Linked DNA regions of Homo sapiens: region 1 is linked to region 2. Evidence: fine-mapped expression QTL. Tissue or cell type: whole blood. Region 2 holds a variant in brackets; the other region holds the start of a gene. All regions are shown on one strand. Distances are between the middles of the regions.

What was found. PIP is the estimated chance that this variant, and not a neighbour inherited with it, causes the effect.
Region 1: it holds the start of RAPGEF5, and the variant in region 2 is fine-mapped to the expression of RAPGEF5 in whole blood (TOPMed, PIP 0.94).

Annotation. Positions count from the first base shown.
Region 1 is chr7:22,353,465-22,359,742 of GRCh38, forward strand. RAPGEF5 (Rap guanine nucleotide exchange factor 5) reads right to left here and starts at 3,690. Exons shown (of 26, transcript NM_012294.5): 1 at 3,366-3,690. The coding sequence starts at 3,596. RefSeq lists an enhancer at 2,966-3,035 and silencers at 3,156-3,385, 3,446-3,835.
Region 2 is chr7:22,441,645-22,449,311 of GRCh38, forward strand. All of the region lies in intron 4 of STEAP1B (STEAP family member 1B), which reads right to left. Among named protein-coding and RNA genes, the nearest start is that of STEAP1B, 55 kb to the right of the region's middle. RefSeq lists enhancers at 6,372-6,421, 6,432-6,501. The variant G/A (reference allele first, on the strand shown) is at 3,905.

The DNA.
Region 1 (6,278 bases), 89 kb before region 2:
AAGACAACATGATGTACGGAATTTTGTTTTAAAATGCACTAGCCCCTACAAAAGTGTATGGAGGGGGAAAATAAATGAAACAAGACTGGCAAAATGCTAATAACTGTTGAAGCACAGGTGTTCATTATACCATTCTCTCATAATCTCTGTTATACAATTAAAAAAATTAAAGGGTTTTGTCAGGAACTCAGGTTGTGCATTACTTTGCTACTGATTTTTAAGAGGTAGTTAGGGCCCTCCCACAATGTACAACTTAGTCTTTCCCTCATTTGTCTTAAAGAAGTGCAAAGAGTCTTAACCAGTATGCATGCTGAATTCAACACAACTAGAAGTGACTGAACTGAGGAACCAAGGAACTCAGGCATATTAACCAAATGGCAGTTTGATTTTTTCCTAGTAACAGATAGCCTACAACGTAGTGAGACCCCCAGTCTCTAAAAGAAATAGGAAAAAAAAAATTAGCCAAGCATGGTGGTGTGTGCCTGTATCCCAGTTCCTCAGGAGGCTGAGGTGGGAGGACCGCTTGAGCCAGAAGGTCGAGGCTATAGTGAGCTATGATCACACCACTGCACTCCAGCCTAGGTGGCAGAGCAAAACCCTGTCTCAGAAAAAAAACAAAACAAAACAACAACAACAAAAAAAGCCTATAATGCACCTGGGTTGAGCAACACAACCCACAAAGAACTTTGTTAATGTCAGTTGATGTCAGATTGTCCAGGTTTGTGGGAGCCCAGGGCAGCATGGATAAGGACCACACATATTCCTAAATCAGATCTTGGTCAATATAGGAGATGAAAACTCAACTAACTCATGTAATGCACAAAGCTGTGTCTTTACTAGTGGTAATGGATTTCTGTTAACTTATCCCTGAAGTCACGCAGCTCCAGTCTGGAGGTATGGCCCATGAGACACAAAGCTGAAGGTCTACAAAAAGATCCAAGCCATGATTTGTTTGCATTAGCATCACTGCCCAATCCAAGGTGGTTAACCAGACAATCCCAGATGCTAACAAGTCACCAACCAACCAGTCTGATACATATTCTACTTGTATCTCTCTTTCTTTCAAACCCCCTGTGTTTTGGACTGTTAAGTGTATGCCCCCTACAAAATTCTTATGTTGAAGCCCTAACCCCAAACATGACATTATTTGGAGATGAGGCCTTTGATAATTATTTAGGGTTAGACTAGGTCATGATGGTGGGGCCCTCATGATGGGATTAGTGGCCTTATGAGAAGAGGGAGCCCTCTCTTCCTCTGCGTTTACCAAGGGAAGGCCATGAGAGGATATACGAGAAAGTGGTCATCTGCAGGCCAGGAAGAGAGCCCTCACCAGAAACCTAATCAGCCTACACATTGATCTCAGGCTTCCCAGCATCCTGAGCTGTGAGAAAATAAATTCCTGTTGTTTAAACCACCCAGTCTACGGTATTTTGTTATGACAGCCTGAGCTGCCTAAGACAAGTTCATATTTCACTTGTTTTTCTCCTTCTTTCAACCCCCTTCCTACTCCTTTGATGGGGAAGATTCCAAAATCACAAAGGTAGTTCCAAGGCAGAAGAAAGGGGAAATAAACAGTCAAATAAATAGTCAAAAAGTATGGGTTTCCAACACTGGAAAAACTGACAATCAAACTTCCTTCAATAAAAACTGGCTATGCAGTTACGAAATGTGTTTGGAAAGTCCCAAAAAGAAATAATACAGTATTAGAATCAAAGAGGGTTAATAAAGCATACATTATCTGAGGTAACCACATTCAGAGTAATTAAAAAATAAAACTAAATAGGTATATTGACAAGGTATACGACACCCTCCCAGGCAGCAAGAAACATGAGTATGAACGCAAATAAATACTATAGATCTATTTATACAGAAACCCTCAGCAATTCTTGTCGCAGACTGCCTGGCAGCCCTCATGTCTTCAGTATTCTGTGCCATGAAAAAGTAACCGTCAAGGATAATAGAAACATAATTTGACCTACTTTTCCCTGGATTCCTGCAAAGTCTATAACTCCAGTTCTTGTTTATTCCGACACCACATCTTGGGGACACATTTCCTCACTTACTTTGCAGGCAATCCTAAATGCCACACATGTTAAGGTCACTTGTGGGCAATTCCTAAACTCTCTGGGTCACCGACTTTAAGAATGTCCCATCACACACAGAGAATCCTCAGAACATCTTCTGAGATGGACCTGGGATGGACCATTTTCCACCTGAGATGGAAAATGCCTAGGAAAAGAGAGATGCAGCCTCGAGAAGCTGAAGACCGACATCAGTTCAGACCCTTCCCTACCCAAAGGAGGGCGCATGAAAACAAGTGGTTATCCCTCACTCTCAAGTTTACACAAACCCATCTCTGAAAGAGCTAGAAGTCTCCCAGCAAGGTCTTGTTTTAAGTCAGACAAGACTGCATTTTAAAAATTACAGCCAAACGGGAAAGAAAAACCACATTGATGCAGCTTCTCATTAAAGACCACTTAATAATAAATTTTTAAAAGATGAGTAGAACCCACCAAAGGTGCCGCCAAACCCTGGTGAGCAGGGAAATCTGAGTAAGTCAGCTCTGTGTCCTGAGGCCCTGGCGGGGCCTCCTAGGTGGCTTCTTAAAGATCCCAGGAGACAATCAGCAGACCTTCCTGCTTCTCTTAAAAATACAAAACATGCCTGACCTGCTCAGGTCATTAGATGCACTTAGAACTCAATGAGGGACACTCCTTCACCAGGAAATCGTATCTGAACACACCATCAGGAAGTCAATATTGAAGGTTCTTGGGGGCGTGCACCCTCCTGCTCAAGAGGGTGTCCAGGAGTATTAAGTGCTGGAGACACCGGAACCCAGGAACTGGAAGCTCACCCAAGAGCTTCCGACTCCTGGGTCTGCCCCTCGGCGGTGGAGACCACCAAAACCAGTCTCGATGCCCAGAGCTTGCAACAGCACCTCCAAAACAAGCACACACGTCGCATGCGTCCTGCAAACAGGGATGCCGCTCGTGGGGCCTGAAGCTTGCGGTTGGGACAGGGCTGGCTGGCTGTTGGACGCTGGACACCTGCAGCTTCCCCTCCGAGAAGAGGCAAACAGCTCGTCTTCAGCCGATGCCCGGTCCCGCAGCCTGAATCTGGGGGCCCTGGGGTTAAGTCAGGTGCAGCCTGGTGGGGGGGAGGTGTGGGGGCGGGGGAAGCCGTCGCTCAGGGGGTGGCACCTCAAAACCCGCCGTCCCGGGCCCCTCTTCAGCCGAGTCCGGCAGAAGGGCGTCCCTTCCGCCACCTCCCCAACTTCCAGACGCCCCCCTCAGCGGCCCGGGGGGTGGGCGCGGGCTCCACGTGCGCGCCGCCCGTGCCCACTCGGACAGGGCCGGGCCACTCACCCGGCCCCCAGCGGCGCTCCGCTTCCTCCGCAGCGTGAGCCCGCTCCGCAGCAGCGCGGGCAGGTCCCTCAGCCGCGGCCGCAGCGACGCCGGCGGCTGCTCGCGCTCGGGCTCCCGGGCGCTGGGGCTGCGGCGCAGGGGGCCGTCTGCCGCCACCACCGCCGCCGCGGCGGCCAGGGCCGGGCTCTCGCACGGCGGCTGCATCTTGACGGAGCCCACGGCCATCCTCATGCCCTGACGGCGCTGCGGCGCCGGGGGCTCCTCTCCACCGCGCTCGCCTCCGCGCGCCGTCCGCGCCTTCGCCAGGAAGCGAGAGGGCGCGACTGCGGCTCGGGCGCGGGGCGCGCTGCCAGCCGCTGCCCATTGGCGCGCGCCGCGGCCCCCGCGAGGCTCAGCCCCGCGCGCCTCCCCTCCCCTCCTCTCTCCTCCCCTCCCCGCCCAGGTGCGCGGGCCCCGCCCCGCCCCGCCCTTTCGCCTGCGAAAGCTGCCTGGGACCTGTCCCCCTCGGATCTCCCACTCGGGACCCGGGAGGAAGAGGGCACCTTGGGCACCGGCTCATCCACAGGTGCAGAATTCCCAGAATCTCCGGCAAACCCGCTCTTCTGTCCTGTCCCTGTCCCCCTACCCCTTAGGCTGAAAAGTCCTGCTTCACTTCTTCGAATAGCCAGGGGTTGACTTGGACTTCAACCAAGTGTGCTGGAGAGTCGTCCGCCCTCCCGCGCGTTTTGCACAGCCTGGCCCCTCATCGTAATCTTTACTCCTGGGAACTGTTTTGGCCAAGGAACTTCAAAATAGACACGCTACAAGGCAAACACCATGAGGCAAAATTGCTTTGCGCCGACCCTTCTTGGCACACGCATCCTTAAAGGACGAAGGGAGAAAACTTTTGTTGGTTATGATAGGTGTTGAGCAGAGTAGCTGCAAGTCTGGTGACCTGAAGGTGAATCTCTGTTAGCATGTCAGAACCTGACCTTCCCTGAAAGCCCGCTGCTGTGATGAATGTGCTTGGTGAACTGTAAAGGCCTGCCGTGGTGTGAATCATTGTTTACACCCTTCCAGGAGGCAGGAATTCTGGATCATTGAGAGTGAAACTATTCCAGCAGTGCCTTAAACGCCAGGGAGTGTGAATGTTCACATCTCAGCTCAATCTGTCTTCAACAAGGGCCAGCCAGGGTGTTGACTTCTCATCAGTGGGGCGCTGGGATCCCCATCTTTGTCTAAGACTTACAAAAGTTGAATAAGCTTATTCACATTTTTAAAAAATGACAAGAATCGTAGGAGGTCAGGGTCCAGAGTTGGTTTACCATTGTGCCCTCAGCCACTCACATGGTAGGTGCTTGGCAAATATGTATAAAAACATGCCATGTAACAAAAAAGGAGGAACGAACTGTGACCTCTGCCCTTAAGGAAGGTAAGACTTAACCTAGGAGTAGACAAACATCCAGAAAAACAAAGATATTGCACTTGTACTCTTGCTAATTGCCAAGTAAGTGTAGGTAAGACCACTTCAGGCCACAGGAGAGAGAAATGCTTCTGGCCTGGGATGGGCAAAGCTAAATCCACGAAAGGAAGGAAGTTTAAACTGCACCTTAAGGGTGAGTGGGGAAGATTCAACCAGGCAGAAGGAGGGTAGGTGTCCTTCAAGTAAGGAAGAAAGACATGAGGCCGGGCGCGGTGGCTCACGCCTGTAATCCCAGCACGTTGGGAGGCTGAGGCGGGCGGATCACGAGGTCAGGAAATCGAGACCATCCTGGCTAACAAGGTGAAACCCCGTCTCTACTAAAAATACAAAAATTAGCCGGTCGTGGTGGTGGGCGCCTGTAGTTCCAGCTACTCGGGAGGCTGAGGCAGGAGAATGGCGTGAACCCGGCAGGCGGAGCTTGCAGTGAGCCAAGATTGCGCCACTGCGCGACAGAGTGAGACTCCGTCTCAAAAAAGAAAAAAAAAAAGAGAGAAAGACATGAGAAAAACACAAAGGTGGTATCACACAGAACTCACTGGGCACTGAAAATATGTCATGCTAGTGAAGGGAAAGATGACATAATGAAGAAGTAAGAGAAGATACCAGAATGGATGCTAGTAACACACTGCAGAAGGCCTTAAACCCTGTCACCTTAAGCTGTGTGTGTTAACTGGAAAGGACTTTATAATAGGACTCCATAGTCCATTACAGTTTCCAAATACCTATCACATGCATTTATCCAAGGCTGAAATTGCATTTGTATGTTACCATGTCAGACTCTATCCGTTTTTACAGTGTTAAGATATTGCAGCTCCAGTTGGTAATTGGTCGTTGTCTTGAGCCCCAGAGTGCCACTCACCCCCATACCTCCAACTTCCCCATGACATACAACTAAAGGGTGAACACCTGGCCCACTAGAAGCCCTCCAGGACACTCAGATTAGTGGGTGCTTGCGCCCCATCACCCCAATGACAACATTGAATCATACCATGAACTTACTCTACTCCAAAGTAGAACACGTGTTCCGTCTCCTGGTCCAGGTTCCTGGTCTTCAAACCCATTCACACAGTTGCTCAATGCAAGGCCAGCATTCCTTAGATTCTATGGGATAGACCAAGCGTCTAAAGTTCAAGAAGGGCCTTTGGAAAATTGGTTTAGGTTAAGGTGATAAATGACAAATGCCATTTAGCTTCAGGATAAAAATAGGCAAACAACAGGGAATAGTAGGATGTGTACACAGAAGAGCCACGTCACTGTTTAACTCAAATCAAGCAACCTTTATACTCGCTGTGCCCTGTCTGGAATGAGAGTCCTCTGCAATGCTGTCCAACAGAACTTTCTACAATGATGCACATTTTCTGTTATCTGTTTTGCAGCTACTAGCCACATGTGACTGCTGAGCACTTGAAACATGGCTAGGGTGACTGAGGAACTGAATTTTTAACTTTGTT
Region 2 (7,667 bases):
AGTCACTGTATTCCTTAAAATAAATGGCCCTAGTCCTTGCCTTTTCCTACACATAAAATAATGTCTGATGGGGTTAGTGGTTATGCTTCTACAATGTATAACCAAATGTTTTTTAGTAATCTATAACCAGACGTACTCTTACACCCCAACTGTGATGTGAATTTGCACATACTGCGGCTTCACCACCTGTATATAAACTGTGAACTGAAATACTGCTTTGGAGCAGTCTGACAGATGTGCTCCTGGCCTACAGGCCTCAGTAAGACTTTTGAATAAAACTAGCTTTAATTCTTTAAAAGCTTGACTTTTCTTTCTTTAGTCAGCAGGTCCCAAATTCTAGACCATGGGATTTGGGTGGGATTTGGCCACCCTGGGATTTGGCTGGATAGTCCATGCTCCTATGCTCCTACCCACTTCCCATATGGCCCTTTCTGGGTAAATGTTCTCTGTAAGTACTTGTGGAATGAATAAAACCCAAATGAATGAATGAGTGATGAAGAGGGCAATGGTGCTCATTGCAACAATGATGGGTAAAAAGACTGCAGTGAGCGGAAGTGCCTACCACACAGCTTCATATTCATAGCCCAGGACTGAAAGGTTCTGAGTTGGAACCAGCAGTTTTCAAGGGAAAGTGACTGACATTAAGTAAACATGATTCTTTACACAGCACACCAACTGCCAGATGCAAGAAGTCAAGACGACAAACGTGTTTCTCCCAGCTAATAACAGTGGCCTCCTCATCTGGGCTGTTTACTCAGCCACTAAAAACCGGATACTCTCTTTGGCTAAAACCAGGATGTTGTGTACCTGTCCTATTAGGCCCTGACGGCAGGCCTGGCCTGCAAGTTGGGCCTCAAGGACAGGAGTCAAGTCTTGAAGAGCTCTTTCCCAAATACCTGGGGTTGGAGGTGGGGATGGTGGAGTGGCTGAGCTGTCAGCAGAGGAACTGCGGGGGAGGGTGTAAAGGAATGCTGGGTGCTGATCTGACAAAGGACCTGACGATGCCTTTGACAGAGTTGGAATCTTAGAACATTTTCAGGGGAAAGAACACATTGCAGTGACTTTGGGCTTGCTGAGTTTGAGACATTGAGAAAGGGGTTAAAAAGAGAAAATGAGGCAAGGCTGAGAGAGGCAGGGTGTCCTGGGTTGCCGCCATGACAATGAGGAGGACTTGGCAGTGCTCCCAGAAAGAAATAGGAGTGATGGAGACACATTTGCCCCCTGGATGGAAGGAACACAGGATGAGAAGACATCACTTGGAGAAGAAATAGCAACAACCATTGTCACACCAGGCTCACCCCTACCCCCTTCCCTGGCAATCAAAAAAGCTGATGGCTCCAGCAGCTCCAGCACGCCCTGGGGACAGCCAGTGTGCTTCAGTCTGAGGCTCCTTCCTTCCCTCCCACTCGCTCCTGCCTGTCTTTCCCATGTTTGCCAGTGTCAGATCTGCATAGTGATCTTCCTTTCCTAATCCTGCTTCCTCCTCATCTTTCGCAGGTGTTTACCACAATAAATCTCCTGGAACAACTCTGTTCTACCATCTGCTTCTTGCAGGACCCAAACTGACATGCTTCCCAACAACAAGAAAAGTGACATTCCTTTTTAAAGACCCAGAGAAAATCCTAGTATCATGTTCTTTGGTATGTTCTGGAATCAAGGACCCAAGATTAATTGGTAACTGATTCACTTATTCAGGAATTCATTTAATCAATCACTTCAATAGGTATTAATTAAGCACCCATTGTATGCCAGGAACTGTGCTGGACCTTAGAGCTATAACAGTAAACAAGGAAGACGTAAGTGAAAATCTCATCTAAGCAACTTGTAAAATGAAAGACCATGGGTAGTCCAGGAAGGAAAAGCTGTCTCTGGGTGTGGCTGAACGTTAAAGCAATCTATCCTATCTGATGAGAAAACACACAAAATGATCATTCCAGACCACAAAGATCTCCAATTACAAGAAACATAACTTCCGCCACTGCTATGCCCTTTGCACACTGTACATAGTCAGTTCCTCCCACCAGGAGTCATCGGAGAAAGGAAACTGCACGTGGATGGCAGGACAACAGCACAGCATTGCTGGCTGTCATGGTAGCTGGCACATGCCAGCTCCTTTTTCTGCATTCAGCTCCCTCCTGCCCCATCACCTAAGAGCCAGGCAAAAACACTTCCACTCGGCTGGAGCCACCAGGACTTTGACCTACATAAAGTGCCACAAAAATCACCCAATTGAACAAGCTCTGGGCCAGAGAAGGAGCTGAGGTCCAGCTGAAGGTGATGTCCAGCCCAAGAGGCTGTCCCCATAAACTGACCCTCAGGGGGTGCTGAGTCCCACTGCCCTGGTTTCTCCACATCTGTGTGATATAAGGAAGCCAGAGACCACCACAGCCTGATGAGTTCTTGGAGAAGCCCAGAGCCAGTGGGCCTGTCTCTCCACAGAGTCACGCTCAGGGCTTTAGTTAAAGGATCCCTGCAGAGGGAGTGGGTTTGAATTCCAAATCTGCCATCCTCATCCTAGGACAAAGAGCAAGACCTTTAACGTCTCTAGGCCTCAGTTTCCTCTGCTGCAAAGGAGTGAGGGTACCTGTACCTCCCTCATTGGGCTATTGTGAGGACTAAATGAGATAACATATGGAAAGCACACAGCACTGTGCAAGGCAGCTTGAGAGGGCGTGAGCAGGATTGGTGAGGACTATTCTTGTTTGCCTGGCTCTAGCCGTTACCCTGACTTCAATCACCTCTAACTATGCGTCCTTCTATTTTGCCTGTTTCCCTGTTTTAAAAAAAAAAAGTAAAAAGAAAATATAAATTCCTTTCTGCTTTCAGAAATGAATTTTCTGAAATTATACCCATCATGGGGATTCCAGGGACCATGGACTCTTTGCAGACACACTACTCAAACCCATGGAGAAAATGTCCCATCGGCTGCCCGGGAGCCTCTGCCTTGGCCACTCGCAGCAACCCTGGGAGAAATAAGGGCCTCAGACAGAACAATAGCATGGATTGTGCCTCTTGCAGGAATTTCATCTGTCACTGAGTAACAGGTTTTGATCTCAGGCTCGCTGCCAGTTAGGAAGTGAAACCCTTTCCGGAACACTTGCTGTTTTGTTGGTTTTCCCCTGGAGATTTAATGATTTCACCTTGGAGGTTTTAGCTGATGAGCTGTGCTCTGTATGGAGCCTACCCATGTGAAAAACCAATCAGGTATTTCATGGGCTCCCCAGTATTCTATTTCGTGAGTTTGGAGACCCACTAAGCCAACAATTGGACACCCCCACAAGGTGTGCATTTGCTGTCACCAGAGCGAGCTCTGGGTCTGTCCGCGTGGCACAAGGAGAGCTGTTAGATCAGTCGTCTTCTCTAACCCAGAGGCCTAAGTGAGAGGATGAGAAAGAGAAAGGGCCATTGTTTCTAAAGACAGGTTCACCTGAAGAATTTGGACAATGATGCCGGTTTCAGTTTAAAGGGCCTTTGGGCAGGGTTGGCATTGGGAACAGGGGCTGAGGGAGCTTCTAGACTTTTCTGCATTATGAGCAGAGTAATTACAAATCAGCTCTGCAGATGACAGCACAGACCTCTTTGTGGTGGGTTCTCTTGGGCCAACAGCAGATTTGGAGCCGTGGAAGAACAGCGAGAAATCTCTTCACATGACCTTCATGTCTTCCTCCTGTAAACCGCATTGTATTTCTAACTTCAGATCAAGGGGACTGACATCTGCAACTCTTCAGGGAGGACAGCTGGGCCATGCCCCTTTGGGCCTCCCATCCTCCCCTCGTCTTGTCAGCCAGTCGTGCTGGGATCTGCCGGCAGCCTTGTGAGAACCGGGCAGGAACTGGCCAGCAAAGGCAGCTATAAATACTCCTCTTGGCAGCCAGCTTCACTTGGGAGCCCACAGCTGAGGGGC[G/A]GAGGCCAGCGGGAAGCACCTGCACCTCTTCAGGGTACATCCGAGCCTGGGCCTGGCTTCCCGCCCTCCACCTCTGAATGGGGATTTGGTCGACCTTTTCCGGCTTGGGGGAAGTCCCCGTGGTGATCCAGCTTCCCAGATGCAAGAGCAGCAGGGAGGGCACTGCTCTCCAAGCAGCCCAACCCCTTTAAACTCAAAGTCAGAGCTATATTCTCACAAGGGCTGATGAAACTGAATAGCTAAGGGTAAATGAGGAGGCAGGAGAGGCGAAGAGGAAGGGAAATAAGCTCTTTTATAGAATGCTTTTCTCCTCCTGATTTCACTTGTGTGGGGAAGCATGAAACAACCACTAATCAGTCTTTCCCCCTGATGAGTCGGAAACTTGACAACTGGAGAGTTTTTAAAAAAATGAATGAATAAATATTTCTTCTTTGGGCTTTATTTATGAAGCATGGGCTAAGAGATCCCTTGTGGGCATTTTAAATAACCAGAAGCAAGTCACAGCAGCAGCTAATGGTCAACTGTAAATGCAGTTCTGCTGTGCAGTTGTCGTTCAAAATGTGACAGTATTTAAAAGCTGGGCTGTATATGAGATGAAGGAGTTCAAAGACCCATTGGATGACAGTTCTCATGCTTCTGCAAGTGAAAGAATCATCTGGAACACTTGTTTATGAGGCAGATCCCCGGTCCCTACCCTCTGAGATCTGATCCTATAGATTTGGGCCAGGGCCAAGAACCTGCATTTGAGTCCCTAATTCCAACCTGGATACTCTGGGACAGGACTGCGCTTTGCAAGACAATGCCCTATGCCAGTGGTTCACAAAGTGAGGTCCCCAACCTGGAGCCACAGGAAATTTGTTAGAAATACAGATTCTTAGGCCAACCCCAGAAAGACAGAATCGGGAACTTTGGGGACAGGGCCCAAAAATCTGTTTTAACAAACCTCCAGGTGGTTCTGAAGCCTGCTATAGGTTGATAAACACTGCCCTAAGATTTCTTACAAGCAAGTTGTGCAAACCCTGGAATACTGGCAATTCCAATGCGTAGCCAAGATTTAGAACCACTCTGATGGACACTTCCATTGGAATATGAATGCTAATCTCACTTCTATAACCCTTATTTTTCTGAGCACTCACTTTTTTCAGCCAAGATTAGAGTTAATAAGGTGAAGGGGAAAGAATGTGGGTTTTGTTTCAGGTAAACGACTCAAGCCTGGTCCCAAGTTGAACCCTCCCTGAACCTCAGTATTTTCATCTGTGAAATGGAAGGAATGCTGCCCACCCCACAATGGTGCTGTGAAGAGTAATGAGACAGTATCTGGGAAAACACTTAGCCAGTGGCTGGCACATTGTAGAAACTTGATTTTTCTGTCTCTCTCTACAATATTTTTTAGTTTAATTGGGGTCTGGAATGAGATTCTTAATTTTTATAGGAATATAGCTTAAGGGTTTGCTCTCCAGAGAGCATCAAAAGACTCATTTTAAAATTCATCTCTTGTTTTAGGGTAAATGTCTGAAGAGCTCAGTGAGCACTCTTGATGTTAAAGATGACTGGTAGCCTTAGTATAGAAGCAGCTCTAATTTAGCATGGCCTGGTTCCACTTTGTAACCAGAGTCACTTTCTCTTCTGGGACATCACTGATGTCTCAGTAATGGGCAAAAACCTTATTATATTAGGCACTTTGCACAAGCATTTCACTTCCTTAATTGGTCACCATTGCTTATTAAATGCCAGGCCAACTTCCAATACAGTTTGGTGACAGAGGCCTGTCATCAACTGTTATAAAGAAATGACTTCTTGTGTGTGTACTGGTCAGCTTGTAATTCAGTTGGTTGGAAGATCAGTCAATATTGTATATTTATAAAAGAGTAGATTCAGTAACCACTTTGGCATGAAGCATGCTGCCTGTGTTTTATATTTTATATAATACATAGTAGTTCTATTGACTCTAAATAAATACTTGACAATGACTGTTTTAATAGATTCCAAAGATGGAATGTCCACAAACACATCATTTGTAGGGCAAAGCTGACACAAATCACATTTGTGGGAGTAAAGTGGGAACTCATCCCTGTGCAATGGTCAAATGCTCCACATATTTTTGTTAGGATGGAAGGGTGTTTAGTAAGGTCCTTCATGTAATCAAGACCTGTCCTGGTGTGCAGCCATAGAAGCCAATTTGTTTTACTTCTGGTACACTGACCAGCATCCCTTAGGACAGGAAGAGATGGATATACCCAAATTGCATTGCCACCTAGTACTTCGGCAAACACTTACTGAGGACCTGCCAGGTGCAAAGCACATTTACATGCATGACCTCATCTAAGGCTCACAAACAGTTATCACCATCTCCTTTTTACAGATGAGCAATTGAGATGCAAAGACATGAAGGCATTGGATAAACGTCATGCAACCCATATTGGTTTCATTTACCCTAGAAGGGATTTCTTGCTTTCAGTTGTATTTACCCTAGAAGGGATTTCTTGCTTTCAGTTGCTGGTTTGCTTATTCATTCATCTAGTCATTATTCATCTATGGTTTATCATAGCGAGGCAACATTGTTTACTCTCATATCTCCTAAAACAATTTTAGAAACCTACATATCCTCTTGAACCTTTTTCAGATGAGACTTCAAGTTTCCCTTCCCGTGTTAAAATAGTTGCAAAGATGTAATTATGGCACGTAGTCAATATTGACACTTTACAACAAAATGTTAATGAATGCATTTCTATATGGCCAAAGGAATATAGATACCAATTATATTTTTCCATTATCCAAAGGAATATAGATAGAAATGATATATTTATCATCTAAAATTTTAAAATACATGAATGATCTTTTAATAGAACTTTTTTCCTTGAACTCATATTTCCATTTCATTTCCCCAATATTACCTCATTTTTAAGGGACCTCACGCTTAAAAATATGTTATCATTCTATTATAATTCTGTGTAGTAATAATATTAGTCAAATTAATTTTTTTAATTTGCTATAATCTTAAGACTTTAGATGTTAAAATTTTTCTTCTGGATTGGCTTATCATTAAAATTATGAAGAAATTATTCAGAACAACATAAATATGACAACTTTAGACAATGCAGCATAAAATCAGGAGAGGTATACTTTTTTTTTGAACACAGAAAGCAAGATGGGAAAAAAGAATGTTTCTCATGATATCTCCCTGCAGGCATGTTCTGAGGCCAATCTTATTAGGAAAGAGTACATGTGGAAGTCTGGGATATGGAAATTAATTCTCTGAGATACACCCAATCTAGCATATCCCAGCTGGAAGGCTGCTTCCCTGGGAGCCAAAAGCACAGAAGGTCCTTGAGGGGCCATGGGACACACGAACAAGCAAGCAAGAGCAAGTTAGACATGCCAAGCATTGTATCTGGTAGGGACTAGGTAAGGTAAGAGACAAGTACCATTTGTAATTTTTTTAATTTTTTAAGTTTTTAATTTAGGGGTATATAGTAGGTGTATGTATTTATGGAGTACATGAGATGTTTTGATATAGGTATGCAACATGTGATAATCACATAATGGAGAATGGGGTACCCATCCCAAGCATTTATCCTTTGTGTTACAAACAATCCGATTACACTCTTTCAGATTTTTTAAATGTATGATTAAATTATTATTGACTATAGTCACCCTGTTGTATTATCAAATAGTAGGTCTTATTCATTCTTTCTATTTTTATTGTACCCATTAACCATCCCCACCCCCTGATCTCCATCCCAAACACTACCCTTCCCAGCCT